Regions from separate parts of the Homo sapiens genome. Here all the other regions are linked to region 6. Evidence: fine-mapped expression QTL. A gene starts in region 6. Each other region holds a variant in brackets. All regions are shown on one strand. Distances are from middle to middle. Region 1 overlaps MIR4435-2HG (MIR4435-2 host gene). Region 2 overlaps MIR4435-2HG (MIR4435-2 host gene). Region 3 overlaps BCL2L11 (BCL2 like 11). Region 4 overlaps MIR4435-2HG (MIR4435-2 host gene). Region 5 overlaps MIR4435-2HG (MIR4435-2 host gene). Region 6 holds the start of BCL2L11 (BCL2 like 11). Region 7 overlaps BCL2L11 (BCL2 like 11).

The links. PIP is the estimated chance that this variant, and not a neighbour inherited with it, causes the effect.
Region 1: its variant is fine-mapped to the expression of BCL2L11 in whole blood (TOPMed, PIP 0.98).
Region 2: its variant is fine-mapped to the expression of BCL2L11 in whole blood (TOPMed, PIP above 0.99).
Region 3: its variant is fine-mapped to the expression of BCL2L11 in whole blood (TOPMed, PIP above 0.99).
Region 4: its variant is fine-mapped to the expression of BCL2L11 in whole blood (TOPMed, PIP above 0.99).
Region 5: its variant is fine-mapped to the expression of BCL2L11 in whole blood (TOPMed, PIP 0.92).
Region 7: its variant is fine-mapped to the expression of BCL2L11 in cerebellum (GTEx, PIP above 0.99).

What each region holds. Positions count from the first base shown.
Region 1 is chr2:111,459,403-111,463,566 of GRCh38, reverse strand. The region is part of intron 1 of MIR4435-2HG (MIR4435-2 host gene); the gene reads left to right. Among named protein-coding and RNA genes, the nearest start is that of SOCAR, 30 kb to the left of the region's middle. The variant A/G (reference allele first, on the strand shown) is at 2,305.
Region 2 is chr2:111,429,041-111,433,204 of GRCh38, reverse strand. All of the region lies in intron 1 of MIR4435-2HG (MIR4435-2 host gene), which reads left to right. Among named protein-coding and RNA genes, the nearest start is that of SOCAR, 60 kb to the left of the region's middle. The variant G/A (reference allele first, on the strand shown) is at 1,897.
Region 3 is chr2:111,140,477-111,144,476 of GRCh38, reverse strand. The region is part of intron 2 of BCL2L11 (BCL2 like 11); the gene reads right to left. Among named protein-coding and RNA genes, the nearest start is that of BCL2L11, 22 kb to the right of the region's middle. The variant T/C (reference allele first, on the strand shown) is at 2,425.
Region 4 is chr2:111,411,587-111,415,750 of GRCh38, reverse strand. All of the region lies in intron 1 of MIR4435-2HG (MIR4435-2 host gene), which reads left to right. Among named protein-coding and RNA genes, the nearest start is that of SOCAR, 78 kb to the left of the region's middle. The variant TC/C (reference allele first, on the strand shown) is at 2,556.
Region 5 is chr2:111,371,516-111,375,679 of GRCh38, reverse strand. The region is part of intron 1 of MIR4435-2HG (MIR4435-2 host gene); the gene reads left to right. Among named protein-coding and RNA genes, the nearest start is that of MIR4435-2, 53 kb to the right of the region's middle. The variant A/G (reference allele first, on the strand shown) is at 2,554.
Region 6 is chr2:111,118,855-111,123,001 of GRCh38, reverse strand. It overlaps BCL2L11 (BCL2 like 11), which reads right to left and starts at 2,088. Exons shown (of 4, transcript NM_138621.5): 1 at 1,814-2,088. RefSeq lists silencers at 4-563, 1,356-1,650, 1,984-2,523 and enhancers at 1,534-1,653, 2,804-2,883.
Region 7 is chr2:111,159,358-111,163,357 of GRCh38, reverse strand. All of the region lies in intron 3 of BCL2L11 (BCL2 like 11), which reads right to left. Among named protein-coding and RNA genes, the nearest start is that of BCL2L11, 40 kb to the right of the region's middle. The variant A/G (reference allele first, on the strand shown) is at 2,375.

The sequences.
Region 1 (4,164 bases), 340 kb before region 6:
AGCCTGGGTGACACAGTGAGATCTTATCTCAAAAAAAATAAAAAAATCAAAAATAAAGAGCTCCTGATTTCCATCCCCCACCGAGAATCATTTTCTGAGTCAGCTGGAGTGTTTCAGAGCCCAACACCCAAGGAGCAGTGCAGGGATGGTGCCCAGTTACAGGGGACAGCTCAGCTCTGAATGTTACAAAGGGCACTTCATGGACCACCACCTTTTCTCTGCTTGCTCTGTACCCCTAAAGTACTACAAGGCATTTTTGGTTAATAATAATTTGAATACTATGTGATCTTGTAGATTCTACTGCGTTTGGCTAGCTAATGTCTCTAAGTAGCAAGATGATTTATTTTTTCTGGACAATACCAGGACTATATGCTGATACAGGACTGGCTTGCTCTAAGGATCAGATTTTCCAGTGTAAAATATATACTCCTTATAGGGTTGTAAGAGCAGAAGCCCGTCATAGCCTGTTTCTTTTTGCTCTCTCTTCAGCCAGCAGTTGGCCTGGATCTTTGCTGGTAGACACAGGGAATGTTCTCCTTGATGAGTGGTTCCCACCCTGGCAGCCTCAGATCCCACCATGTTGGCAGGGATGCTGAAATCCACCTGCCTATCAGCCTTTGTAAATAACAAAAATCACAAGTGGCTCTAGCATTTATGTATTCTATGATATTGGGACTCTTGTGATATAAATAATACAAATGCTTTTACATGCATAATTCAATTTATACTATGTTTTATCTTTAATTACCGGATAATAAAAACATAACTACTCTCAGGAAGTGTGAGGGATGGTGACTCAGGCTAAGGTGAGCCTCACAGCCTGGAGGCTGGCTTTAGTGCTGGCTGGGAGAGCTGCAAGGAGATGGCATATGCTGCCGATGAAGGTGTTCTCCAGGAATTTTCAGTTAGAAGTTTTGATCATTGTTCATTTGGCCTCAGGATGAACATCATGGTACTGCTTTTCATTCTCTATAATTAATATACTTTTCACAGTCAACTTTGCATTTGAAAGTATTTATTTTATGGGAAACAGTGAAAAGTAGATAATTAGCACATGTGCAAATCTGTTTGGCATTTGTGGGGTGTTTGCCCTGAAAACCTATGGATGAAGCCCAAAGACAGGAGCTGGGGGGTTTCATTTAGTTAACTTAAAAGTTTTAATTGGTCTGTGTTACTCTTCTTGTTACATATTTTTTTAAGGCCCTAAGGTGAGCAAGTTACATTTTAAAATAAGGAGGAAAAGCCAGTTTTAAAAGTAGAATTGAGTCATTGCATGTGTTTTTTTTTCCCACAAACATTAGCTGTGTGATTATTATGTCCCAGGCACCTAAGGAATAGTGCCCTTGTCCTGGGGAAGTTCACAGTTTGGAAGGGGAGATAGTTGGGAAAGGTAATGTGAATATTAACACTCGTGTTTCCTGGGGGCCAAAAAGTTCCAGCTTCTGGGCCAGGTTAATTATCTGAATTATCTTATTTCATCCTTACATTGGGAACCAGATGCCCCCAATGCCCTTCAGTGACTTTTTTGGTGGCTTTGAGGAAAAATGAGGCCCAGAGAGGTTATGTAACTTGTCCAAAGTCACACAGCAGGTAGACTTAAAGTCAAACAGTTAGCTCCCAATGTGCACACTCTTAATTACCATGCCACTAAACCAGACTCTGAACAAAGCACTCTGGGAGCACAGAGAAGACCTCTGAGGGTCTGTCTGTGTGAGTCTAGGGCATGTTCAAAGTTAAGAGCTGATGTTTAGCTCAGCAGGAAAGGGCTGGGGCACAGTGTTGAATACACATATCAGGTGGCATTTATTGCTGATGACAGTAAAAGAAAAGTGTAAAACAAGATAATTTGTTTACATTTCAAGATACGTTAAGTTTTTTTTTTTTTTTTTTGAGATAAGAGTCTTGCTCGGTTGCCCAGGCTGGAGTGCAGTGGTGCAATCTCAGCTCACTGCAACCTCCGCCTCTCGGGTTCAAGCGATTCTCGTGCCTCAGCCTCCCGAATAGCTGGGACTACAGGCGTGTACCACCACGCCTGGCTAATTTTTGTATTTTTAGTAGAGATGGGGTTTTACCATATCGGTCAGTCTGGTCTTGAACTCCTGGCCTCAAGTGATCCACCCACCTCGGTCTCCCAAAGTGCTGGGATTACAGGCGTGAGCCACTGTGCCCGGCCTCAAGATGCATTAAGTTTTAAAGGCCCCTGGTTATTTCTCGTCTTCTGAGATGTCATTCCAGTGTGACATGGTTAACATCAGTGAGGATGGCATTCCTGTCCCACACAGTAAAATGTCACCTCTCACACAC[A/G]TAACTCTGGGCGTAAAGTGAGTAAAAATATGAGACTTAGAAGAATATTTCATCATGGTATGCTGATTGGGGATTTCACTTACTGATACTAGAAAGGTTTTGCATTTCAGAACACGATGAAATAGGTAATATTTATCTGAAAGACGCAGACAAGTGGTGGAGGAACCAGACACCCCCAGTGCCGTTTGCTGGCTTTTATCAGACAGAAAGCAGAAAGGAGAAACATGTTTTATCCCATGAGAAGGAAATATTGGCTTGATGTCTACCATGCCCAGCCTTGCACTAGACATCCAGGTAGCTGCTCCATGGAGAAGTTCACAGGGTGGTCAGGATAGCACAGGGAGGAGGTGATACGCTTGAGGGAAGTCCAGGAGGGACTCAGGGAGTGTAAGCCAGTAGGGGGGTGCTCCTGAGAAAGGGAATGAGGCTGTGCCTTGAAAGACTGATTAGATAGAGGAGGAAGTGAAGCATCAGAGGCTGCCCAACAGAGGCAGGAGCTGGGGCTGGGGTGGGCAAGGAGAAAATCACGCCGTCCTCCTGTGTGAACAGTAGAGTTTCATCTGCTGAGGGCAGAGGCCATGTTTTATCCATCTCTGTCCCCTTCTATGTCCCTTTTTCTCCTCCCTTCCCCATTCCCTGGCATCATATTGGGACTTGTTAAGGGCTGAATTGTGTCCCATCCCAAATTTGTATGGTGCCACCCCAACTCCAGTACCTTGGAATGTGACCGTATTTGGAGAAAGGGTCTCTGAAGAGGTAATTAAGGTAAAATGAGGTCATATGGGTGGCCTCTAATTCAATATGACTGGTGTCCTTATAAAAGGAGATTAAGAGCACACCAACATGGCACACGTATACATATGTAACAAACCTGCACATTGTGCACATGTACCCTAGAACTTAAAGTATAATAAAAGAAAAAGAAAAAAAAAGGAGATTAGGATATAGACATACACAGAGGGAAGACCCACGTGACAACATAGCAAGTAGGTGGTCATCTACAAGCCAAGGAGAGAGGGAGGCCTCAGAAGAAACCACCCTGCCAACAACTTGGTCTCAGACTTCCAGCCATCAGAGCTGTGAGACAATACATTTCTGTTGTCAGTCTCTAATACTTTGTTATAGTAGCTCAAGCAAACTAATAATCCAGTGCTCAACATATTTTTGTTGAATAAAAGCACAAAGAGATTCATGAGAAGAGGGAAATGTTGCATACTTAGGGTAGGAGCAAACCACAGAGGTCTTTCTCAGCCTGGGCAAAGAATGTCAACTCTGTGTTGGAGCCAGTAGGGAGCTCTGTGGGTCCTCGAGCAGGAAAATCCCATGGCTTAAGCAGTGTTTCAGGAAGACTGGGATGTTAGGCTCCAGAGCTCTGAGCAAGTCAGATGGGACTGGGAGTCATAAGAAGGCTTGACTGTGGCTAGTGATAACCAATGAGCACTGGAAACATGGAGGGGAATCTTTCCTCCCTTTTATATCAGGGTTCTCTCCTAGAGGAGCAGGTGAGGACCTCTGATGGACCAGGAAATTGGAATTCTGCCTGGGAGGCAAGCCCATGGAGGCCCTGATCTGCTTGGACAGAGAGTAGCTCCCTTCACCTGTAAAATGAGAGTGAACGAGCTGGTGTCTAAGGAATTCAGAATCCCCCCCCTGGAGTTCCACAGGGTATGTGGGATTTTAGGGGGACCAGGGTGTCCCCAGTGCAAGAAGGAGGCTCCCACCAAGGGGCTGCAGCACTGCAGATAACCCCCAGGGGTATGAAAAGAGGCTGAACTGGGGGCCTCCACAGTCAGAATCCATCCATTGACCCAGGATGCCAGGAACGGGGAGGCCCATGGGCAGCAGAGGCTCAACGAACTC
Region 2 (4,164 bases), 310 kb before region 6:
CCCCACTCAAAGACACAGAATCTTCCTGACCAAGTGTAGGTCTGTAATGACGTGTGGAGCACTTTGCAGAAACTGCTTCTCAGCGGGGGTCCCCTTGAAAAGGTGCTAAGTCTGCTCAGAGATACGTGGCTGAAGCTCTAGACGCGGGAGCCTCTGTCAGAGACAAGGGCAGGGGGACTCAAGTGCTGCTGCCTGGCTCCCCTGCCCTGACAGCTCTAGCAGCACACGAGTCTGATTTATACAAAGAACCCATCTCATATCTCCCTAAAATTAGTCTGTGATAAGCAATATACATTTCCTGAGTGTGCGGTCTAGGTTTTAATATTCTGAAAAATAAAAACAGTGGTCTCTTGAGAGCTGAACAGTTTGGTAGTTACTGAGCAGGCTCCATCCTCCTTGGCAATTCTTTTGAAATCTCAAAAAGTTGGCTTCCTATACTGTTAGAATCTGGTGTGAGTCAAGAATGGACAGGGTGTGAGTTCCTCACTCGTCCCTTTTCTATGCATTGAGGAAGACCTCGGTGCTGCCAATGGGGCAGAGGAAGCTCAAGTGTGTTTTTGCATGAGGCTGGCTGGAAGCTCTGGCTTGGGCTCTCAGCAGTGAGGTACTGGCAGTTCCTTGGATGTCACAGCAAATCGAAGCTTGTGGTCTTCACTTCCTCCTACCTTGAGACTTACTGCACAGAAAGTAGAGGCTTGGATGGTTCAACTTCAGGGGCAAAACAGCCTGCCTTGGGGGTGGGACTGGGGGTATGCATCTGTGCCACTGCTTCTCTCCCTTTGTCAGTTTACCATGCCAGCAGCCTTCTGTCTGTTATCGGGAAGAGAAAGAGCATGATTTGGGAGCTAGCTGGGGAGCTTCCTGAAGGTTGCCTGAGCTGCATTTGGGGCCCCTGATGAGGGCTTCTATTCAGGGTGATGTGTGTGACCCTGAGGCCATCTCTCAGATCTGGGGGGAAGTGAGGTTTTGTACCCACAGTGGGGAGACCTACCTGGCGGCTCATCAATATTAGACACCTGCAGGAACAGCAGGTCAGCCAAGCCAAAGAGTAAGAGTGGCCCTGTCTGTGACTAGATGCTTCTTCAGGGTTGCCTCAACACCGGAGTGGCGCTGGTGGTCTCCACCCACTCCCAGTGTACACTGGCATCTAGGAAGCCATGTGTGTGATCGGCCCTGAATTAGGGGCAAAACTTTTAGTTCTCAGATGAACTGTCGTGGGTTTATTCAGTGATAACTAGACAGCCAGGCCAACATGGAGTTGATTCATCCATGCAAAACTTCCCAGACAAGGCCTTTCAGTGGAGAACTGGAATTCAGGGTCTTCTCAGCTTTGGCCAGAAGCCAAAGGTAGGAGAGGTAGGAGAGACCCAGGTCCTGGTCCCAGCTGTGTCCCATCCAGAGTGACCTTGGGAAGGTTGCCAACTTCCTTTTTCGGTGAGCCTTGCTTTCTTCACCTGCAAGGTGAAGGGTTGGTTGGATGATCCGTAAGGGCCGGCCACCTCTCACTCTGTGACTTTGGCCCAAGGTCCACATGGTTGGGTGTTCCATACTGTAGCCCTCCTGGGCTATTACATTTTGGTTTTTCATTGCACTCAAAAGTGGGGGTAACTGGTGAGGGGCACGGGTTGGTAAACCACCTCTCTATTTCAGTGATGAAACTAAAGAAACCAGGTTTCCCCTTCCACCCCTACAGGCCACTGATGCATTACTTAGTTCCTGTTTCTCTTTGCCCACCCAGGAAGACACTGCGTATGAAATCCTGGGCCCAGATGCTGGACTTTAAGCCACATTAGAAAATGCTAGCTCATAGGACTCAAAACGGGAAGCTGGCTTTCCCAACAGATTCATCTGGGCAGTGTTCTTCCCAGAATGTGTAGGAATCATGGGGCCAGGTTC[G/A]CCAAGGCTCAGGAAGCTCGGTATTTCACTGTCACTAGCCAATGAGGCCTTTAAGGAAAAAACAGATAAGACTGTAGGAGTTTATATGGATCCGTTAACTCACTTGTACAAGACATTGGGAAAGATACTGGGGGTGGGGGGAAACAATACAGAGTTTCAAAAGATAAATAGAGACTGTCATAATCACCACATGTCCTGGCAGCCAGGGCTACGGGGTCAGGAGAAGCTTTATTCCCTGGCCTGCAGCACTGCAAGAGACCCTAGGAGGAGGAGAGCTCCGCCAGGCCCTGCAGGCTGGGCAGCCTGCCTTCGGCCACATTTCCTAACACCACTCAGCAGAGCCCTGCCAGCAAAGGCCAGTGTGCAAAAAATGTTATGCCCTATATATGTTTGGGAAGTGCACAATAATTTAAACAGCTTTCTTATTTCTTAACTTCTCTGGGTATTTTGTGTGCTACTGTATCTTGTGAATGAATCTCAAGAGGAAGGATGAAGCTTTTCCAAAATCACATGCCTTCATCTCATTTTACAGAAAAATTTGTGCCTAATATTAACCAAAGGAAATGGGGAGCGGCAGGGCCAGTGGGTTTTCATGGTGAACTGAGGGTTGCATCTTGGACAGGTTGCATGTGGAAGGGACAGCAGGGTTCCCAAGGAAGCTTTGCACGGTCATGGGTAGAGCCATCCCTTCTTCATCCATAGTGAATATGGCTGGAAATAGCGGGTAGTCTTGGATTTGACCTCCCTCCCATGGAAGTGCTGTCTCCAGCTCACTCCTGGAAAAACTGCTTTCTCCCCAAAGTGTGTCTGAGCAGCAGATTTAAGCATGAAGTTGGTTTTGTGGGGCTACAGTATGGACTTTGGGAAGATGGTGCCATCTGTATTTCTGATTCTACCGTCCCTCTGTCTGTCTTTGGAAGTATCCTTTCACTTGTTTGGGAGACTGAGAATGATTTTCTGCAAACAGTGAGCCAGACCATGCTGGTCTCAAGCGGCAGAGCAGTTATTAACAGAATCACAGTCTTTCTGGAGCTGCTGTCAGTCCTGTGCTGTCCTCAGGGCCTTTGCTTGGTCAGGGGCCCCACTTCTTATCCACCCTTCCCTCTACCTCACCGAGGCTGCTAGGCCCAGGTGTATTGTGATTATTTGATGCACCTGGGAGGCCATGTCTCCCGGGGAGTCTCAGGACCTCATTGGGCTGGAATTCCACGGGGATCTCTCATTGGGTCTCTTTGGGCCTTTGGAGAGGGGAGTGCAGGGCACCACCTGGGCGAACACCTGTGCCATCCTGTAAGTCCTTGTGTGACTCTTCATCCAAGTCAACAGGGGCATGTAGGGGAAGAGCCTCAGGGCCCATCAGGAGTCAGACCCTGACCAGGAAGTCAGAACTGAATCAACTTTTCAATAAACACACAGGCTGGCCCCAAACAAAGCAGCAGGCTTTTGGGAACATCTGCCTTTTCAGTCTCTTCTGAATTCTGTTTATGTGGACACCCCATGTCCCGCACCACCATTGCCGCCAGCAATGTTTGTTGCTTGCCAATATTTGAATAGATGCTGATAAATTTGATTCTCTGGCTTATTGTGGCATTCATGATATGTCTTTCCCTTTTCAGTTTCCATGTACTAGAGCGACTGTCAGTGTGGTTGGCAGTGACCTGTGTTTTTCATGCATGTTTTTGTTTCAGAATAACTGGGAGATGAAACAGGAAGCTCTATGACACACTTGATCGAATATGACAGACACTGAAAATCACGACTCATCCCCCTCCAGCACCTCTACCTGTTGCCCGCCGATCACAGCCGGAATGCAGCTGAAAGATTCCCTGGGGCCTGGTTCCAACTGCCCACTGTGGACTCTGAGGCCTCTGCATTTGCGGGTGGTCTGCCTGTGATATTTTGGTCATGGGCTGGTCTGGTCGGTTTCCCATTTGTCTGGCCAGTCTCTGTGTGTCTTAATCCCTTGTCCTTCATTAAAAGCAAAACTAAAGAAAACAGAATTGTTTGCTTATTAGCTATCTTTAAACGCTGATTGAAAGGATATCGAATAGTGTTTGAGGGAACCCTGGCACGTCCACACAGCTCATCTGACATGTTTAAATGTGTGTTGGGCTTGACTCTCTCATAACTCAGCCACGCTTGTCTTGCTGCTTCTCATACCTCTCCAGATTGCTGTAGAGTCAGTGTGGGCAGACTGACATTTGAGAGAAACGTCAGGCTTCATCTGGAAGCCTCTTTCCACACCCACCCTGATCGTGGCCTGTAAAC
Region 3 (4,000 bases), 22 kb before region 6:
AGGAGAGCAACTGCCATCAGCGTTTGCGGTAAATGCTATCAGAATCATGTTTGAAATCCTCAACTCTGACGGTTCTCAGAAATAAAATAAGCAAGTAACCAACAACACACACACACACCTCCCTCCAGGTCTATTTCTCACTTGTATCATTTTATTTTTTGGCAATCCCAATCAATTCCGCTGAGCCACTGGATGAAAACAAAAGCTATGAGAAATACGATGACAGCATTAGTACTCAAAGATTCCTCAATCTGTCTCCCTGGAACACATTTGTGTCAAAAGCCTGGGCAGTCACATGAATTCAAGACAGTGCTTCAAAAACAGCTGCTAGGATAAAATACTATCAATAATAAAGTTTATGAGATGAGGCCAGTGTTTTCATACTTACTCTTTCAACGTGCACTGCCCATTGCCTTTATGGAGCCATGGTCAAAAGAAACAGCTTTCATCAATTTCCAGCCTGACCATTTGGAAACTGCCAGTAAACCAAGGCTGTGAAGTTGGACAGAAGTCTGGAAACTAGTGTTCATGAGATTTTTTCCCTCATTCACTATTATCTGTCCCTTATAATAAAAATACAAGTCTAAAGACATTAAGATTAATGTGTTATGCCTTTTTACTCATTTCTCATTCAACATCAGAAAAACTAATTATCCATGTCACCAGAGCTGTCCCCGACACACATATTAACATATTTACTAGCAGCTGGGGACAAGCCAGGAGCAAACCCAGACTGAGCTGTGATCCCTATACTCAAGGACATCCCCAGCTGAGTCACGACAGAAGCCCAGCATCTTGCACCATGTGGGAGACCTGAGCAGGAGCCCTCTAAGACTCCCAGCCTGTGTGCCCGCTTCCTGGGACAGATGCACATTTCCTAAGGCACTGCTGTCCTCGCTGAAGAACACTGAGTGCTACGATGCTATTCCTCGTAGGGAATTGAAATGTTCCCTTCTAAGCCCCACTTCAATCTTGATTCTGCCCCTGGGACTATAAAGGAAATCTATGATCCCTCTCAATCATCACCCCACTTTTTGTCAGTGAACCTGTGCCAAACCTGGTCCTAAACCAGTTCTTTCCATGTGCCTTGTATGACATCCCCTGGGAAGCCCCTTGACCACCTGGCCCGCCTTGGTGTGCTCCTGAAATCGCTGCTCTGAATAGTGTGTGACAGTGTTCTGCCCCTGGTGTTCTGCCAGTGTTCTTCTGGGGAAAGACACGGGACACTGAATACTGCTACTACTCCTTAGTTTTTCTACACCAACCTTCATCCTAGTAAGTCTCTGCGACAGCCACAGCTCCATTTCTATAGCTTTAGATTACTTTCAGGGGATTAAAAGTATCTGACCTGTGCCATTTTATTCTGAAAAACAAAAATAATCCCAAAACTAAGGACAGCTAAAAGAAGACCAACCCTGAAATTACTTTAGTGCAAAGACACAAATCCCTATATTTTTTCTACTGACGAGGTAAACTACCCAATTTATTTCCCCATAAGAAGAAAAATGCTTTAGAGACCTTTTAAAAGTAAAGATAAAACTCTATATACATTGGTTCACTTAAGACCATTCCTTAGAATTAAAATGCTTAATTTGAAGTTACTGTAAGTTGTTTCTAGCCAAAAAACCAGATCTGGGCAAGAGGGGAGGGAGATGAGAATTTAAACAAAAAATATAAGAATTTCTGATGACAAAATAAGTGTGGCTTCCTCTATGAAATTTAAAACCAGTAGCAGGAAACTGGTGATTAACATCTTTTCTCCTAAACTCACATTAAGGTCTTCAGTATTACTGTTTTCACCTCCATGATAAGAAAGACCAAGACACAGGTAAAAAATAAGAGCAAAAACAGAATCCTTAAAAAGCTACACCTTAAACAGTTTTTAAAATAAAAATGGAAAAAGCCTATAATGTATACGGTTAAAACTTACAATGGTGATATACAAAGTGAAGTACAATTTAACACAGATATGATTATTGATAACACACTGTAGGGCTAAGACATAATGAAAGCTTCTCACTTAAAAGTCACAAAAGGCAGCTGCTTCTTTTTATCCCATTTTGAATAAAAAGAAAAACTTTTCACCTTGATTTTGCTAACCACTTGAGTGGCCACTGAACTTCCCTATGAAGGGCAATTCTGAGGGAGGATCCAGCGGAGTCATCTGCAAGCCATAAAAATGTTGTATAAATAAATTGTGCCATGTCTTCCCAGACAGATAACTTGTTTTGTCACAGAAGGAAAAGAACAGGAGGTAGAGTCTTCATTAGCACAAGTGCAAGTTAAGGATGTAAAGAATTCTGTGCTGAAAGACTGTGTTCTGGTGCTTTTGAAGGTCTTCCATGTGTTTAGGTTCACACATTCCTCCTCCTCCCTGATGCCCCCACTTTCCAGGGCAGACACGGCTGCTGCCCAGTGAGTCTG[T/C]ATCCTAGATGAGAAACACACTGTGTGATACAGATAGAATTGGGATTGTTCTGGTCGGGTGCAGTGGCTCACGCCTGTAATCCTAGCACTTTGGGAGGCTGAGGTGGGCACATCACTTGAGGTCAGGAGTTCAAGACCAGCCTGGCCAACATGGTGAAAACCTGTCTCTACTAAAAAAATACAAAAATTCACCAGGCATGGTGGCACCTGCTTGTAATCCCAGCTACTCAGGAGGCTGAGGCAGGAGAATCGCGTGAACCTGGGAGGCGGAGATTGCAGTGAGCTCAGATGGCACCATTGCACTCCAGCCTGGGTGACAAGAGCGAAACTCCGTCTCAAAAAAAAAAAAAAACTCACAAGAATTGGGATTATTATTATTATTATTTTTTATATACTTTAAGTTTTAGGGTACATGTGCACAATGTGCAGGTTAGTTACATAGGTATACATGTGCCATGCTGGTGTGCTGCACCCACTAACTCGTCATCTAGCATTAGGTATATCTCCCAATGCTCTCCCTCCCCCCTCCCCCCACCCCACAACAGTCCCCAGAGTGTGATATTCCCCTTCCTGTGTCCATGTGATCTCATTGTTCAATTCCCACCTATGAGTGAGAATATGCAGTGTTTGGTTTTTTGTTCTTGCAATAGTTTACTGAGAATGATGATTTCCAATTTCATCCATGTCCCTACAAAGGACATGAACTCATCATTTTTTATGGCTGCATAGTATTCCATGGTGTATATGTGCCACATTTTCTTAATCCAGTCTATCATTGTTGGACATTTGGGTTGGTTCCAAGTCTTTGCTATTGTGAATAATGCCGCAATAAACATACGTGTGGATTGTTCTAACTCAATGTAGGCCAGTTCCCCATAGGCACCAACTCCCTACACTGCTATGACCACTGCGGAAGGGCCATGGCCCTAACACTGAGATTTCCAGGCAGGCTAAGGCATTTGCCCCAGGGTTGTTAATAGGCCTATGGGAGGACCAAGGCTGGGCTGGGTCACCTGCTGGAACCTCCTACTCCACACCTCACACTAGAGGAGCAGAGGAACACAAAGATGAGTCAACACCTTGTACAGTGTATGCCAGGCTTTCTTTGCCGAGGACAGAGTTCTAAGCTTCAAATGAGCACCCTGGTGAAATCCAAGTGAAAAGAGAAGGAACTGGTGGCACTCGTATATTGCATTAAACGCTAATGAGAGTCTCTTTAAATCAACAAATATTGCACTCCTGCTATGTATCAAACTTTTTCTTAAGTTGTTGTTTTGACTAATTTAGTAGAATTTATGATCAAGTATCAGCAAAAATGAGGTGTAAACTCACATATATACTAACATTGTATCTATTCAGAATTCACTATAGACTACTTCAGGTTAATGCCTTTCTCAAGGGACCAAATAACAGACAAATCAACAAGAAAATACACTTCTAGTCTTTTCTCCACCACACATCCCACAGAAAAGTAACTCACTCAACAAATCAGGTTATCGAGCTTGGCTCACCTCAGACACCTTCGCAGATGCACGTGCCTAAGAGAAAATCAGATTCCATCCACTTAAGCTGCCTT
Region 4 (4,164 bases), 290 kb before region 6:
ACTTAATGCACCCTGGGCACTGAAGAAGAAATGCGGAGGAGTCCCCAGGACTTGCTGAGTCTCCTAGAGACAGCAGAGGTGCTCTGCTCACAGGAGCTCATTTTCTGCCCACAACAACCCTGTGCCATCAGCTACATTATCTCCAGGTTTCTCATACAACCAAAGCTGAGGCTTATAGGGTGGCACAACTTCCCCTGCTCTGGCTCCGAATTCAATATTCCTAAGCCATAAAGCATTTCTCTTTCCTCCCCATCCTGTTCCTATTCCCAGTCTCTCCATGAACACACACACACACACACACACACACACACACACACACCCTTGTCTACACTTGAGCTGTAGTCTGGGCCCGTTACATCAACAACACAACCACGGCAGAACGTGGATTGGTCCAAATTGCAGAGATTTTAAATCTAAATTTCCCATGCTATTGAGACTTTACAGAACCAGTCCTTCAGGTGAGTTTTGATTTTCTGTTTAAGCCAGGGTTCAGCAAACATTTTTTCTAAAGGCCAGAGAGTAAACATTTTAGGCTTTGCTGGGCTGCATGGTCTCTATCACAACGGCTCAACTCTGCCATTGTAGCATGAAGCAGCCACCGGTAATACATAGAGGAATGGCCCAAGGTGTGTTTTAATACAACTTTATTTTTAAAAACAGGCAGAGGGCCAGATTTGGCCTACGGGCCATAGTTTGAGACCCCATAGTTTGAGATCTAAGTCATCACTAAAAGTGTTATCAGTAATTGAGGGTTTTAGACATTGCATCTGTCTAACCTATCAGAAGTAAGATTGGGGGCCAGGGCCATTGCAGTGAGGCTGTGGAAGTTCACAGCTGCTTAAGAAGCACTGTGACCAACATCGCTCCTTACCCCAGATGGGCCAGGCCAGCAGTCACAACATGTGCTCCATGGGGAGACAGCAATAGGCATTTCGCTAGAAAAGAGTTCTCTGGACTAGTAAGTTTAGAAAACCTTGGGCTATTATTATCGTTATTATTATATTATTCCATGACTGCAGGACTTCTCAGGGCTTTCATAATGCTGATGAACATGAATCTTCCTAGATATTCTGGATCTCTAGGAAGGGAAGGTTTGTGTGCAGAGCATGTCTGCACGATATTCTTTGGGAAGACTGCGCTGGCTCCCGTCCTAGAGATTCTCATGCTGTCTTTTCTTTCTACCTGTTTTCCCAACTGTTCCCACTTGAGAGTACTGGCCTGAGTTGCTGCCAACCTTACAATATCCAGCTCCGTCCTCAGAGCCACACTGCGGTCCCACTGGGGACTTTGGTGGCCCTGCCTCCCTGCAACCCCAGGTACTCAGTTTGGAGGGTGTGGAGAGGGCAGGGTTGAAATGCAGGCTGCTGTGTCTCTTTCCTTCAATTTTATCACCAGCTGCTGACCATGCTTGCTTAAAGGTCTGGTATTTATGGTCTCCTAGAGTCTCCCAGAACCTCACAAATACCCCCGGGCTCCTGGTTTGAGGGACTAGATGGGAAGCCCCCCTCCCTGGGAGAACACAGGCCTAGAGCTTCCTGGAACTTAGGCAGCTTGGTCAGGGAGTGTGAGGACTCTGACAGGAGCACGGGTGTGGGACATTCATGCCTGGAAGGCCCTCGCCACCTGAGACCTCGGTGTGGAGGCGGGACTTGGAGGAAAGGAGTCCCTGCTATAGTGGAAAAACCAGCCAGGGTAGGTAGTTTTGTATAAGACTCTTAACTCTGTGGAGACTTCTGTTCATTATCTGCAAAATAGAAATGTGTATCCCAGCAGCCTAGGCTTAGACTGTGAAGGACTAGCTGAGGGGTGTGTGAGAAAGTTTTGCAAACATGGCTGGGCACAGAAGGCTGAGCTATTGTCTGGAGGAAAACTCTCAGGGCAATTCAGACCTTTCTGGGCCCTTCTGAGGCAAGAGGCATTGAGGCAAAGTTTGAGATTTGACTTCAGGGACACTGTTCTCTAAGCATATGCTTCAGTCACGAGCGCTGAACCCACTCTCAAAAGCTAAGTAGTAGCAATGAAATGCTTAAAAAGTTCGACCCAGACTGCAAAGACCCACAGAAAATAGAGCACAGTGGCTGGCTTGGGGAGGGACCCTCGGTCCAGACAGCAGCCAAGGAGTTCTTGAGCCTTATTTATCACGTTGTAGTATTTTACAAGGAGGGCTATGCGTTATTTCTCTAATTGAACGTTACTTTTAAAAACAGACAAAGAGAATCAGGAAAAATGATGTGAGGACCTTAGGCCCAGATCTGTTTCCGTTTCAACAAGATGTGTCAGGATGATGAAAATGTCGTTTGGTTGAGCCGTGGTCATCACCCCGCATTGTTGTTCTTTCATGTGTTTGTGTGTGTGTGTGTGTGTGTGTGTGTATGTGTTTCCCTCTGAGTTTCCCAGTAGTCATTACTAAAAAAAACTCCTAAACTGACTCAAAACAACAATGACAAAAACAAAAGCAAACAAAAAGACCCAATCACCACAGGCGCCATTCAGGCCCTCTTGTCTGACGGTGTTCACAGACTGTGCTTGTGTTTCTGGATGTACCCGCTTCCTTT[TC/C]TCTCTTACTCACCAGATATCACTGGGAATCCCTCCTTCTTGCTCCAGGACTCTAAAGGAGACACTGGGGTAAGACTCATGTGGGTCTTGGGGCAGCCCATTTCCAGGAGAGCATGACCCCCACCCCCCAAGCCCCAGGAGGACGGACCCTTCCCAGCTGAGGCCTCCTCTGCATCCGGACCAGGGCCCTGGGCCTGAAGCCAGGTTTTAGTGAAGGCCTTTTGTGGGTGCCTCTCTTGCCCAGGAAACACAAGGTCTTTAAGCTAAGCCTGTTTGTGGGGAGAGCAACCCATTTCTTAGAGGGACTCAATCCATAGGGAGGACACTAGTCCATCAGGGGGCCCTTGTATTTTCATCCTGGAAAGCACAGTCCCCTGTTTCCTTCTGGGACATGAGAAGTTGCTTCTAATGGTTCATCCCCACAACCTCACTTCCCCATCCTTGATTTGCAAATGGGTCCATAGAGAGGTCCCAGGCAGCTACTTGACCCAGGCAGCGAAGGTGAGCGTGGGTCTCCTCACTGCCATGAGCCAGGCAGAAGAGCAAGCAAAACAGCTAAGAACCAGACAGGCCAGAGTTCAGGTTGCAGCTCTGAACCTGACTAAGCTGTGTGACCCAAGGCAACTCACCCAACCTCTCTGAGCCTCAGTTTCCCCACTTAAAGTGGAAACAAGACCAGCCCCTGCCTCATGGAATTGTCATGAGGAAGAGTGAAGGGGTGCTCGTGCAGAGCTGGTGCCCAGGGAAGGGGCTCCGGTGCCAGGCCTGACAGCTCGTCAGGGAAGCCTGCTGCCGGCCATCCCAGGGAGACAGTGCCAGATCAGAGGGAAGCTCAGCAAGCCACTTAAAAGGGACCTTGACTCATTTTGTGGTAACCGAATGTGCAGTTCAGGAAGTGCTTCGCAAAAGCGAACTGGGCTCCAGCCGCCCCCTCGTCCCCCTGCCCTCTGCTCAGGATTCACTGTGCGAGGACCCACCTGACACCACCTGATGCATGCCAGCAGCGTGGATGGCAGGCCCCACGTGTTCTCAAGCCCACCAAAGGCTGGTGGGTGTCGGCTCTCGGAAAGACAGCCTGACCTCCTGGACTGAAATTCCACTCCTCTCTTTAGTCGAGGTGCTCAATCTCCCTGAGCCTCTGTTTCCTCCTCTGTAACTGGCACTACCGCATACTAGGGCCGGTGCAAAGCCCTTGGCAACTAGGTATCATTTAATCCCCACAAGCAGCTCTAAAGGCAAGTACGAAACCTTGCCATTTAAGGATGGGGAAGCTGAGGGCACCTTGAGTTATGCCAGGGCACACACAGGGTGAGTCTTGGAGCTGGAATTTGAACCTGGGGAATGGCACTCCTGGGCCTTCCCTCCTAACTCATAGTATCTACAACCTGGATTGTAGACCTAGCTAGTAGGTCTTGGGGGTCCTTCCCTCCTAACCCCTGGTATCTAGAACCTGGATCGTAAACCTAGCTAGTAGGTCTTGGTGGTTCCTCACATGGATAGAAGAGATGCCAATTTCCATTAACCATGCACACTGCTGCTTGGTGGGCAGGTGAGGAAGTGGTCTGAGTGTGGAGGAAGCCCAGGACAGGACCCTCTTTGCCTCCCCGT
Region 5 (4,164 bases), 250 kb before region 6:
TCAGCATCCCGTTAACTTTCTTTTTGTAACCCTCAGCATGGTTTTAAGAACCTGGAAGTTTATTGCGTAACTGTTTTGCTTGTGAAGTTGCACATGATTTCTCAGAAAGATCAATTCAAACCCGCCTTGTCACCCCTCTCCACCCAGGCCCCACTTCCTGCTTTGCTGGGGCTGGGGGGTCAGAAGTAACATAGCTAGAGACAGATGTCCATCATCTGTGCTTGTGATGACAAAAGGAGGTAACAGGAGCACAGCCAGACCCTCACTCCTTGGAGCCCTGTTGTGAGCCACTCATGGCATGCACCATTCTCTGTCCTCACAACAGCTCAGACGGGTAGGAATTATTGGATTCTTTCTCTAAATGGGAAACCAGGGGTTTTAGGTGCCTTATCCATGGACCCTGCCCTCACCTCCCTCACCCAGTGCCCCCCTGTGCCTTGCTGGCTCTATCTGTGAAATTTATCCATGGACCCTGCCCTCACCTTCCTCACCCAGTGCCTCCCTGTGCCTTGCTGACTCTATCTGTGAAATGTCTCAAGAGTCCATCCTGTTGTCTCCCATCCCATGTCTCCCACTTGGCCCACAGTCCAGACTCTTACCTGTCCAGACTCCTACTCCAGAGAGACCCGGCAAGATCTTTGGGAAAGGCACATTGAGCCATGTCCTTCTCCCCCTTGGAACTCAACAGTGGCTTCCTGTCACTCTGAGAACAGAATGCAGCCTCCTCCCTGTGCATGACAAGCACCTCCCTGAGGTCACAGCTGTGGCTCCCTGACTCTGCACTGGTCCAGTCCAGCCTCAAGGCCTTAAATTTGCCACTCCAGAACCCTGGTTTGGACCCTGGACTCTGAATACATTCTGGTCTTTTCCTCAGGGAGGTCGAGGCACTGTCCTAGCTTGTGACCTGCTCCCATACCTATTTTCTCAGGGTGGAAGCAGACGCTCCAACTCCCACACTATGAGGCTGGTACCATTACCTCCAAGACCCAAAGCCTGTAGGAAGTATAGCAGGCCTCACCCAATACCCTGCAGTTCCCTCACTTGCTCCAAGTGGGAGGTGGGTCTTCACGGGTCCCCAAGATGAGGGCCAGTGGCTTTCCTCTTTCACAGGCTACAGTGGGAGCGAGTCTTCCACCATGGGACCTCTGGCCAGATCTCAGGGCTCTGTGGTTGGGGGAAAATGGCTCTCTTTTATGGGGCTTTAAGACATGAACTGACATGACATGTCCTAGAGACTATCCAGAGAGCATGTGGATCACTTTTTGCTGCTTTAGATCACCTTCTTTAAAATCAATGCATTGACATACTTTCAGCACTTAAATTTTCGTATTCTATTATCGCATCATCTCAGAAGAAAAGTCTTTCATAATTAATGAATCTCAGGCTGGGTTAAATATGCAGTGGCTGCCCACACACCACTTACTCTATTGCTTCAAAATAATTGGCTTTCACTTATCAGGTCTACTAGAATGACTGTCTTAAACCAGTCACGTGGTGGAAGCATCACCATGTTTCTTGCTCAGAAAATACCCTTTCAAGGGCTTTTCTAGGGGAGCCGGAACAGTAGCCAATTCTAGTGGGACCTTTAAGAAACAACTTTGCCCAGGATGATATTTGAGCCCTCTAAAGGGCCAATAGGGGTCCCTCTATTCAACTTTCCCTCCGAGTCCCACCAACCTCCCCACTTTGGTTCCATACAGCTTGGATTATTGCCCTACTAGTTCAAAACTGAAAGTTTCAAATAAAAACCAAAAGACAAATGTTAAATCACATTGAATTGATAACTGAGACAATCCGTCAAGCATATTTTGCTTTCCTGATTTTTCAAAGAAACCCTAATGTTGCACCTTCCTTGTTGTCAGTTTAGTACGTTAACATTTTTTTAATTAAACTTCAGTATCATTGAACAGGTCATAGAGTGTGAGCAATATTGTCTTTGTTCCAAAACTCCAAATGTAATGAAGCTGCCATTCACAATTGTTTTCCGCTGGGCTGCTTATTTTAAAAAAATGATTTTGATGAATAAAAATAGGTGCATTTTCACAGCGTGGGGTCCAGCAAGAATGAAAACCTTACGGATCACAGCCCGGCCCCTGGGGGTGCGGGAGGAGGTGTTGTCAGATGTCAATTTTGGCTGATTGTTTTTGAGGCCATGAGACTGCCATTCCTGTGTCCCGTGGTGCATTTTAGAGACTGATGTCACTTTTTTGAGATAAATTATTAGAGAAATGTTTATAGATGAATATACATTTCACAGTGTGCCAGAGTTGAGGAGTCTAATGAAGTTTAGAAGGGACACTGGGATGAGGGTGCTGAGCTGCGGTGCCTGTGGCCTGTGACAGACACCTCCTGCACCAGGAGGCAAGGATCCTGATGGTCAGATGCTCAGTCCCCAACAAGAGGGGGTTCAAAGCCAGTGCAGCCCCTTCCTCCCACCGCTGGGGGCAGCAAAGGACCCACAGTGGAGATTGCAAACTATAGCAGGGGCTGTGCTTTGTGTTTGTTTTCAATATTTGAGCCATCATACAAAAATCTAGTGATTTCTCATTCTCT[A/G]TACAAAAACCAGAAGATCTGGGCCACAAGGTCTGCATTTTCCCCAGTATCAGTCTGCTATGGCCCCATATTAGCTGCCTAGGGCCCCTCACTCCTGCTCCTGCTAGACTCTGTGGATATTTGAGTCATGACCTTGCCTCAAGGCTTATTCACGTATTATTTATTTATTGTTAATATAGGAAGGGTCTTGCTCTGTTGCCCAGGCTGGAGTGCAGTGGCACAATCATAACTCACTGCAGCCTTGAACTCCTGGGCTCAAGTGATGCTCCTGTTAAGGCATATTTAGATGGGAGGAAACATCTTTCTTCCTTTAGAGCATCTAATTATCGGCATGGCCCTGGACAAATTATCCTAGAGCCTGGAGCCTCAATTTGCTCATCTCTGTAAGGGGGGTGACAATGCAACCTCATAGGGTGGTTGTGAGTACTACATAGAAAAAGACTCCAGAAGGAGCACAGGGCCTCCATTGGGAGCCCCTCAGCCAACACTCCCTCCTTGCTGCCTGCACAACCTCAAGAGAACATGGAGTCCTTTGGGATGCTGAAAACTTTAAGGAAGACAACTGTGCATTCTCTGTGTAAGCAGTGTGCACACTGTCTTCCTCCTAAATGGCTAGTTGGAGGAGTGAAGACAGACTCACTCAGAAATGGGTGATTCCCTGGCTGCAGTCTCCTCTCTGATAACAAAGGACTGGGCCCAGATTAGAGACGAGGCAGGAATTATGTGCTGCAGAAAGGCGGTGGGGACATCTTGAGTTTGTTTGTAGCTAATCTCAAATAATTCAGGTCTTTTCCATTTGCAGCAAATCTGATTCCCTCAACACATCTGTGGTAAAATGTTATGAGTGCTTGCGGAGACCAAGTGTGGAGGGGATTTTTTTTTTCCACCACCAAATCCATAGTTACCCTCCAAGTTGTAATCTTATCATATTTAACTGGTTCCACATAAACAGATCTATGTATATTTTCAGTAGTTTCAGCTGAAACCTGTTAAGAACAGATGTGCCAATGGTTCCCTGGCACTGATCCATTTAAATATATTTTTTCCACGAACAGGTTTTTCTCTCTCCCTTTCCTTAGAGGGGAGAAAAAATATGAAAGTGGAACCACCATTAAAGTGGATATTACATGCTTCTGTGTTCTCTGCAACCAGTGTTTGCCATTGGTTTTCCAACAGCAATTTGGCACATGAGGCTGTGAACACAGAGTGTGCATTTGATGGACAGTATTTGCTCTGAGGCTGTGTGGCTGGGAGAATGGGCTGAGAGCTCTGTAGTTGCTACCTAAGCTAGGGTCAGCCAGGGTTAGTTTTTCCCTGCTGCTGCTGCTAAGCAGCCCCTGGGCAAAGGCTTCAGCAGGCCGTCTGCCTCTTTGAGCCTTTAGTTTTTCAGTTGCAAACAAAAAAAAAAGGTCCAGGGAGTGGGAAGATAAAGAACTCCTATAACTCAGCAACAACAACCTGATTAGAAAATGGGCAAAGGACTTAGATAGATATTTCTACAAAGATGATATATATTAATAAATGGCCAAAAAGCATGTGAAAAGATGACTGGCATCACTAATGATTAGAGAAAAGCAAATAAAAACTAAAATGAGACATCACCCCCACACC
Region 6 (4,147 bases):
CTAGGCGACACCGGTGCGCGCCGCGCCGCCTTCATCCCACAGACCCTCCCCTCAGAAGGCAATCACACCGAAACTCACGTCCGCGCCTTCCCTTCAGAGCGCAGCGTCCGGGCCAGGGACCAAGCCCCGCGGCGTCCGGCCCGCGCCCTTCGCCGACCGGGCGCCCCCTGACCGTCACCACGAAAGCAGCGCAGGAGACAAAGCCCGGGACTCGGGTTCAGAGTCCCCGGCGCAGCGCAAAGCCCGCGCCTTCCCGCCAGCCCGCCGCCGCGCTCCGCCGGGCAGCCGAGGGCTCCGCACGCCGCGCCTCTGGCCCGCGCTGCCCCGGCCGCAGCCGCCGGGAACATCCTCCGCCTCCTCCCGCTCCTCCCCTCGCGCTCTGCGCCCGCCGCCGCCGGCACCGCCGACCTCCCCGCGCCGCTGGCGCCGGGTGCCCGCGTTCCCAATTGGTCCGCGCGCGGTCGCTCCGCGCCGCAGCCAATCGGCAGCCGCGGTGGGGGCGGCGCCTACGGGTCAGGCCGCCAAAGGCGAGGCGATTGTTGACAAACTCGCCTCCGAGCGCTGCTCTGGCCGTGGTCGTGGCGGCTGCCGCTTCGTCGGAGGATTTGAGGGCCGGCTGGCCCGGCCACCCTGCCCATCCCTGTGCTCCTTCCGGACACAAGCCTTAGCAGCTCCCGCCGTCCTGGACAGCCAGTCACCTGGAGACAAAGCAGGACTTGCGCCGCGCCCGGACCCGCAGGGCCATCCCCAGGCCCAGTCCTCGCCACTTGTCCTTGTTTTGGCCCGTCGGGGGCAGACCCTAACGGCCGTCACCGCCCTGGCTGTGGCAACTATTCTCCTCCAACAACTTCCTCTCTCTCCTGGTGCGCCGCAGACACGAGTCAAAGCCGAAGAGCCACCCCTGGCCGCGGACGCGCACGTCCGCGACCATCGAGTAAATTCACACCCTCCGCCCTGGCGTCCGTCGGGCCCTCCACCAGCAGCGCCAACCCTGGGGCAACAGGTCCCAGAGGGCACGGCGCCGCCAGCCTGCACCGCGAACCGGGTCGGGTGTGCTCGGGCATGCGTGAGCCGCTAAGATAGCCCGGCCCAGGGACCGAGCAGGTTCTGCCGGCCGCGACTAGTCCCCTGCGCGGTCCAGGTGGTCAGGGGAGGACCTAGATTTCTCGCTGCCAGGGAATCGTGCGGATGGCACAGGCCGCAGGACTCCTGCAGAGCAAGCAGGGGCCCCAGGTACGCTTGAGAAAGCGAACGCAGCAGTGGCCCCGAAACCTTGGCCTGAATGAGTAAAAGGAAAAGCCGTGTCTCGTCAGTTAAATCACCACCGCAGTTCCGCAAATCCTCCGCAACAGGCCCACGCGCCCCAAAAAACCAAGACACGAAACACCCTCACACTGCGCGGCCGCTACTCTGAGGGCGCCGGAGCCGGCGGCGAGACTTTCCAGCTGGGCGCACAGCCCGATACTACGAGCAGGTCCTCAGCTCCCGGGCCGGCGCCGAAAGGCACGCGCTGCCTCTCCTCCTGCCCGGACCTACGACCCTTCACCAGGCCCGCGCGCAGCATCCCGTCCCAAGCCGCACTTCGGCCAAGAGCCTGCAGGTTCCGCGTGAACGACTTTTCTTTAAAGAGAACCTGCCCGAGAGGGAACCCGATCCACACGGATCCCCACCTCCCGCCGGCGACAAGCGGCGCCGATGCAAGCGTCTCCGCTCGCACGTGCACGGGAAGCGGGCAGTAGGTGGTGCCGTTCGGGCTCCAGCGCTAGTCTTCCTTCGGTGCCAGGCCCGCGCCCCGGGATTTGGAGGTATTTACCTTGCGTTTCTCAGTCCGAGAGTCAGAGTCAGACATTTGGGGGAACAAGGGCCAAGAAAGGGCGCCGAGGCGGTGGCGGCGGGAACGCAGCGAACCGAATACCGCGATGATGCGATCGCAGTGTGGCAGGGTTCGCAGGGTGGCTGCAAGAATCAAGTGGTGGTAGTGGCGGCGGCGGCGGCGGCGGCGGCGGCGGCGGCGGCGGCGGCAGCGGCAGCGGCGCTGGACGCAGAGCTCCAACAAACTGCAGACCAGGCGGCTGCGCGGAGCGAAGTGAAACCTGCGCGGCCCTGCAGCCCAGCTCTGGCTGGCGGCCCCGCTCCTACGCCCAATCACTGCGGACCCCGCCCCCGCTAGGTCCCGCCCCGGCGCGCGGGCTGGCAAGCTCCGCCCCCCTCGGCGCCGCGGCCGCCGGCGCGTGCAGGCTCGGACAGGTAAAGGCGGGGGTTGCCCCGCTGGGTTGCCTCCCGCGCGCGCCGCCGTCCCTGGCGTGTTTACCGGAGTAACTCTGCCTGCTGGCGGCCATGTGCGCGCCCATCCCCCACCCCGAAGTGTACCCTAGCCTCCCGCTCACCTACCCCAACCCGGCGGCGGCCGCGGCGTGCGCGGCACAGAGGGGGCGCTCCGGTCACAGCCTCCGCTGGCCCGGCCGGCGGTGTGAAGCCTCGGGAGGCGCCCTGCGCTCTCACTGTGCCCTGAGTTTCTAAGCCGCTCTGGGGCAGGCGCGGGGACTGGGTTGGTCCTCGCGAAGGCGCGGGGCGAGGTCTTTGAGCTCTCCTCCCTCTGAGGGTCCCTGGCGCCGGGCGGGACGCGGATCAGCAGGCTGCGCATCTTCCTCGCCCGGGCCTCTCGCGGGACTCAGGCACCCTCCTCCTGCCACCCCGCAGGGGCTCTCCAGCTTTTCTTCCGCGCCCAGTCGCCCTAAGAGACAGAGGCCGTGGGGGCAGGACGCGCCCAGAAAACGGCCAGGCGCGGTCCCAGTGGGCGTCTTCGCCGCCTCCCGGGTGAGGGCGGGAGGCATGTGCAAAGCAGGTAAAATAGGGAAATGAAAAAAGCACTCAGAAAAAAAAATCCTTTTAGGAAAAAAAAAAACGAGGTGAATGGCGGCCTCCAAGTGAGAGAGAACGTTGCGCACTGCATTTGGCTAGGACCCCCAAGATTTGCTGGGCTCGCAGATAACCTCGTAGGAGCTCCCTCGACTGGCTGAGGCCAGTGAAGGCAGAACAGCTGAGTTCGGGCCGCGGTGCGGGAGCGCAAAATACCCCGTCCCTCCTCCCCTCCCGCCTCCCCACCCATCCCTTTCCTCCCTGGAGTCCGCAGCACCTCACTCTACCTCCCAGGAGACCAAACTCCATGCCGCCTCTCCAGTCCTCTGAGTCTGCACCCGGGTCTGCTCTCCCAACGCGTGGCTGGCGCCCCAACCCCGGCCCTCCTGTCTGCTCCTCCCGCGCCTCAGTTCCCCAGCCCCAGCTTCTAGACAACTGCAGCGGGGGTGTGGGAGGTGGATCGGGAAATGGAACATCCCGCAGGTGAGGTCAGGCTAGATGGATTAAGGAAACTCTGTAAAGGGACCACCCTACACACCACCGCAGCCGGCAGGGAGAAGGAAGGGGCCTTGCCGTAGAGGAGCAAGTGAGGAGGCGTTGTCCCGCCGTCCGGCCGCCTGGAGCAGTTTTTAAATTCATAAGCGCTTCTGTAACGTCAGTGGGACACAGCGCAGCCCCATGCCAAAGTCTCAGCGCATTTTCGGGTGAATTTTGAGCGAGGTGAAGGAGGCCTTGGGTTCCCGGAGTCGCTGGAGGACGCGCGTCGGGCCCCGCCCAGTTATTTCGCTGCAAGAGGGAAAAGGCACGAGCGTGGACACGGCTAAGTAGACTCGGAGGCCGGAGATCGGTCCTAACCGGGCCTCGAAGTTCCTACCGCGGACGAACTTTGCTCTTCGCGGCCGTCCCGCGTCGCACCCGGGGAAAAGCAACACAACTTGCTGCGCGGGCTGAGAGCCCGAAGCCCGCCGCACGCCGCAATGCTCCGCGCTCCCCGCGGGGTCGGGCGACTCAGACAGGGACCGGAAAAGAACCACGCAGAAGAAAGCCCTATTTCTTGTCGTCTGTTCCTGTGCAGCCTTGCAGCCTCGCCGCCCCCGCGTCGCTCGCTCTCGCGACCCTGTGAACACTTTGAAAAACAAGAGTCGGGGGAAGCAACGGGCTAAGCGCTGCTATTTGGGGCACTAAAAGGAAGCCGGCCAGAGGTGGCGGGTTCATGCGTCCCCCGAGACCCAGGCCGCGTCGGGGGCCAAGAGCCCTTACAGCCTTCTCCCGCGCCGTCGGGAGGTCC
Region 7 (4,000 bases), 40 kb before region 6:
GCGGCAACACAACACCTCAACCTCGACGCCATGAGCTACAACCTGGTTCACTGTTCAAGTCTGAAATCTGCCCTGGACATTTCTTAATGACTAATCCACACGAGACCGGGCTACATGACTGTCTCTCCACAAACCCCCTTCTCATTGGGTGGGGGATACCTCCAACACACCGTCGCGGGAACCACCTGCCATGCATCAGGCTGAGACAACTGTCCCCTCAGACCCCGAATGGCCCCCACAGACACCAGCCGCAGCTGCAGCTCCACTGTTTACACAAGCTCTGCCGCGCTTGTTTGACAGAATGGGATTGTGATAAGGCCAGGGCATTTCCCCTTTTCCTTCCATAACAAGATTGGAGGAAATCAGCTTTATGTAAGCGATTCCTGTAGAGGCACTCTGTAACCACAGTCTGTGATTTTTATCTGTTTTACACACAAGATTGCTTTGTTTTGATTTAACTTTCAAAATTACTTTGCTGCCTCTGTGTGAGAATAATTTAGGGGAAGGTTAATTTTAGTGTAGACTAATATTAATAGGTTGAAAGAGACTTATTCAAAATAAAACCACAACTTACTAAAATGAAGAAAGTGTACGCTATGATGGGCTAAGTAATCAATCCAGGCAGAGTTGTTTTGTGCCAACCTGGTGTCATTGCCATGCTTGGTGTGGCCAGAAAATGGGGCTGACTGGGTGTCCACAATCATCAGGACACCAATGAGGGGGCTGGGTCAACGTGAAGGACAGACCCCAACTGCTGACACTTGGTAAGTTTCATATTCCAGCACTGGCAGCGTCCAAGGGAAGAAATCTCCTGCCCACTCTTTGAGGACAGCAGGAGGCTGTGACCAAGCTTAAGTAGAAGTCACCTCACAAGAGAATCTTTCCAAGGTTTTTAGAGTTCCACTTTCATCTCAAATGTAAAGGATATGGGGTATTCAAAGACATGTTGGAGAGGGTGGGGAAAATGCAGGAAATTTTGGCAAAAGTTACACCCAATCCCTGACTCATGAGAAGATGCTACAGCATCCCAGTCTGCAAGTGTGCGGGGATGCCTGCCCTCTCAGACGGCGGGCATGACAACATGGCACACGCTTTTAAGCTGACAAGCAATTGCTTTTGGACGACATTCAACAGAGGAAGCCATTACCACGGATTCAAAGAGCCGTGCCAGCCCAGAAAGCATTTGACAGCTGGCACGGCCGGCTGGAGCTGCTGTTGGCTCGAAGTGTATGCCCGTATTGCAAAAGACAGCTGGAGGATGGGCAGCCCCTACCTCTGTAGACTGGCTGCCCTCTAATACCTGCAGCCATAAAAATTACTGTGGCTTATAGTCGGGGCCTGGTGACACTAAACTGGGGCAAGTGGCCAAAAGCTGCAGTGGGGCAAAGACGCAGAACTAGGACTGATGGCTCAACGCTGCTCAAAGCGCCAACAGCTTCAGCCAGCTCCAGTGAAATCTCCCTGCGATCTAGATACTGAGGAACGGCTGCTACAATTCAGCTCCTAAACCAGGGCCTTTGGTTTTGGGGTGGTATAAAGGGTCAGGAGGGAGTCTGAAGCAATTAGAGAAAGCCCCCTAAGATGGAATTTACTGGTGAAAGGTCAAAGTAAGGGCACACCCAGTGGCTTCTGGCCAGGGTAGCACATCCAAGATGGAATTGGAAAGTCAGGACTAAAGATGACAATCCCTGTATTGCAGGGGAGTTGCCAGTTAAAGGCAAGTATGACACTAAGACTGAGCCAGGAGCTGTCATTTGCAGTGTGAGTGGTTCCTCGCATCTAACATGGGCTAAGACAATAAACACACCCATAAGCGGATCATCAGCAGCCATGCCTTGACCGTCTTCCTGAGACCTGCTGTCTGCAGAGCTGGCCTCCCGCCTAGTGTCCAATAAGTCTGCGTCTGCTACAGTGGTTCTTAATCAGGTGGAAGAGGCATCTGTGAATCAAAAGTGCATTTAAGTTCTGCCACTCCCAAACTGGGTAATATAAAAAAGACAGACTGTCTTTCCTGATTACAAGCGTTTTTTAAAAAACTATTAAAATAAATACAATCAGGGAAGATGCTCCACTCCCTCCTGAAACTTCTGGGTATCTTCCTCTTTATGGGCTGAACTGTACACTGTGTCCCCTCAATTCATCTGTTGCAGTCCTAACCCCCCGGACCTCAGGCTGTGACTGTAAGTGGAGACAGGGTCATCAATAAGGTGATTAAGTTAAAATGAGGTCACTGTGGGGTGGGCTCTAATCCACGGTGTTCTGGTAAGAGACAATCAGGACACAGAAACCCACGGAGGGAGACCACGTGAAGACACAGGGGATGACAGCATCTACAGGTCTGGAGGCTAAGTCTGCACCATGATCACAGACTTCC[A/G]GCCTCCAGAACTAAGAAAAATAAATTCCTGTTGTGTGAGCCACCCAGTCTCTGGAACTCTGCACAGCAGCCCTAGCTGACTAATACACACTTTCACTGATGCTCTCAGTCTGTCACTCTTTAAGTGAAAACAATCCTTCTTACAGAGTTGGGTAACTCTGTTTTAGTCTAAATTGCAAAAATACTTTAGAAAGGTATAACAACTCATTTGGGTGAAGGAGATTATTTTTAAAGACCAAATTTGCTAGTAAGTTACAACTGAAGTGACCATATACTACAGTTCTCTCCTCTCTCACTTTCTCTACGCAGACACACATACACACAATCACAAGTGCACAAAGAGGAGGGCCCCACCCAGTTGGGTACTGTAATCTCCATAGCCTAAATCAAGAGCTATATGAGGACTGGGTTACCTGGAGGTAACTGCCTTTTGTGGCCATCCCATGTGTCCAGAAGATGACTCCTTCAACATTCACAACCTTGTGTGTCCCTCCAGGAACCAGTTCCTGACAGCCCCTGCCCCTCTCAGGGTAAGGGGCTCCAGTGGCCCTGTTGCTGACCAGCATCAGGTGGGGGGCCTGACTTCAAGGCACGTGTCTGTGTACCCACTAGGTCTGATGGTAATAGCTGTGTCGCCAGCACAAAACAGTAAACAAGATAATAAAGTAAGGACAATACAGAGGCAAATAAAATGAGAGGGAAAAAAACCACTGGCCAGAGAGGAAGTGGGGGAGCCAGGGCAGGAAGGCACCAGGGTGAATCCCCACATCAAGCCCCAAAGGAAGAGGAGAATTTCTTGGAAGGACAAGAGGAGAATGGGCAGTGCAGGTGGAGAGAGAAGCTGGGCAGAGGCAGCAAGGCCAACAGGCAGAAGGGGCCAGCAGTTCAGTAAAGATAATCTCAGTAGTGGATAAGTATTTATCATAAACCAGAAGGAAAGATTATGCCAAGTTGCAGGATTGCTCCCCCACAGACTGTGCCCTCTAAGTGTAAAGGCATAGGATTATGTGTCTACAAGTTCCTCAGCATAGACTTAAGCAGTCTTTCTCTGAAGATATGAACAATGCCCTTTGAGACGGTGTCGAGCATTCAACAGGGAATTCCTAAATAGTTCTTCACATGTCCCCATGACACCAGATGGCACAAGCTCATCTGGGTGGCAACCTGGGAGGAGCTGTACCACAGGAATGCCCTAGCGTGGGGTTCCTGCTGCCTTGCCAGGGGCTGGAGCTGCCACTGCAGCGAGGAACATTAAGTGCAGGGCAGAAGCATCTTCAATTTACACTTGGGACGACCAATTAAGTGTCAGGGAATTTAATGACATTCTAATGCCAAAATAATCACAGAACACCACTCTCTTGCTCAGTCCAGGGAAGCAGATGCTTGGAAAACAATAGAGGCCCTGGCCCCAGGGAACTGGTCAGGTTGAACAGCAGACAACTATAGAATGCAGCTTTGGATTCAGCTTCACTCTCCAACAGTGAGAGGAGTCGAACCTTTGAAAAGCTGCCTAGGGCACTCCAGGCCTTTGGACTTTGTGTGCCCAAGCTTGGGGATGGAAGAATTGCCATGGCCACCACTAAATGAAATAACCTAGCCCATGCTTTTCAGTCCCCACAACAACCC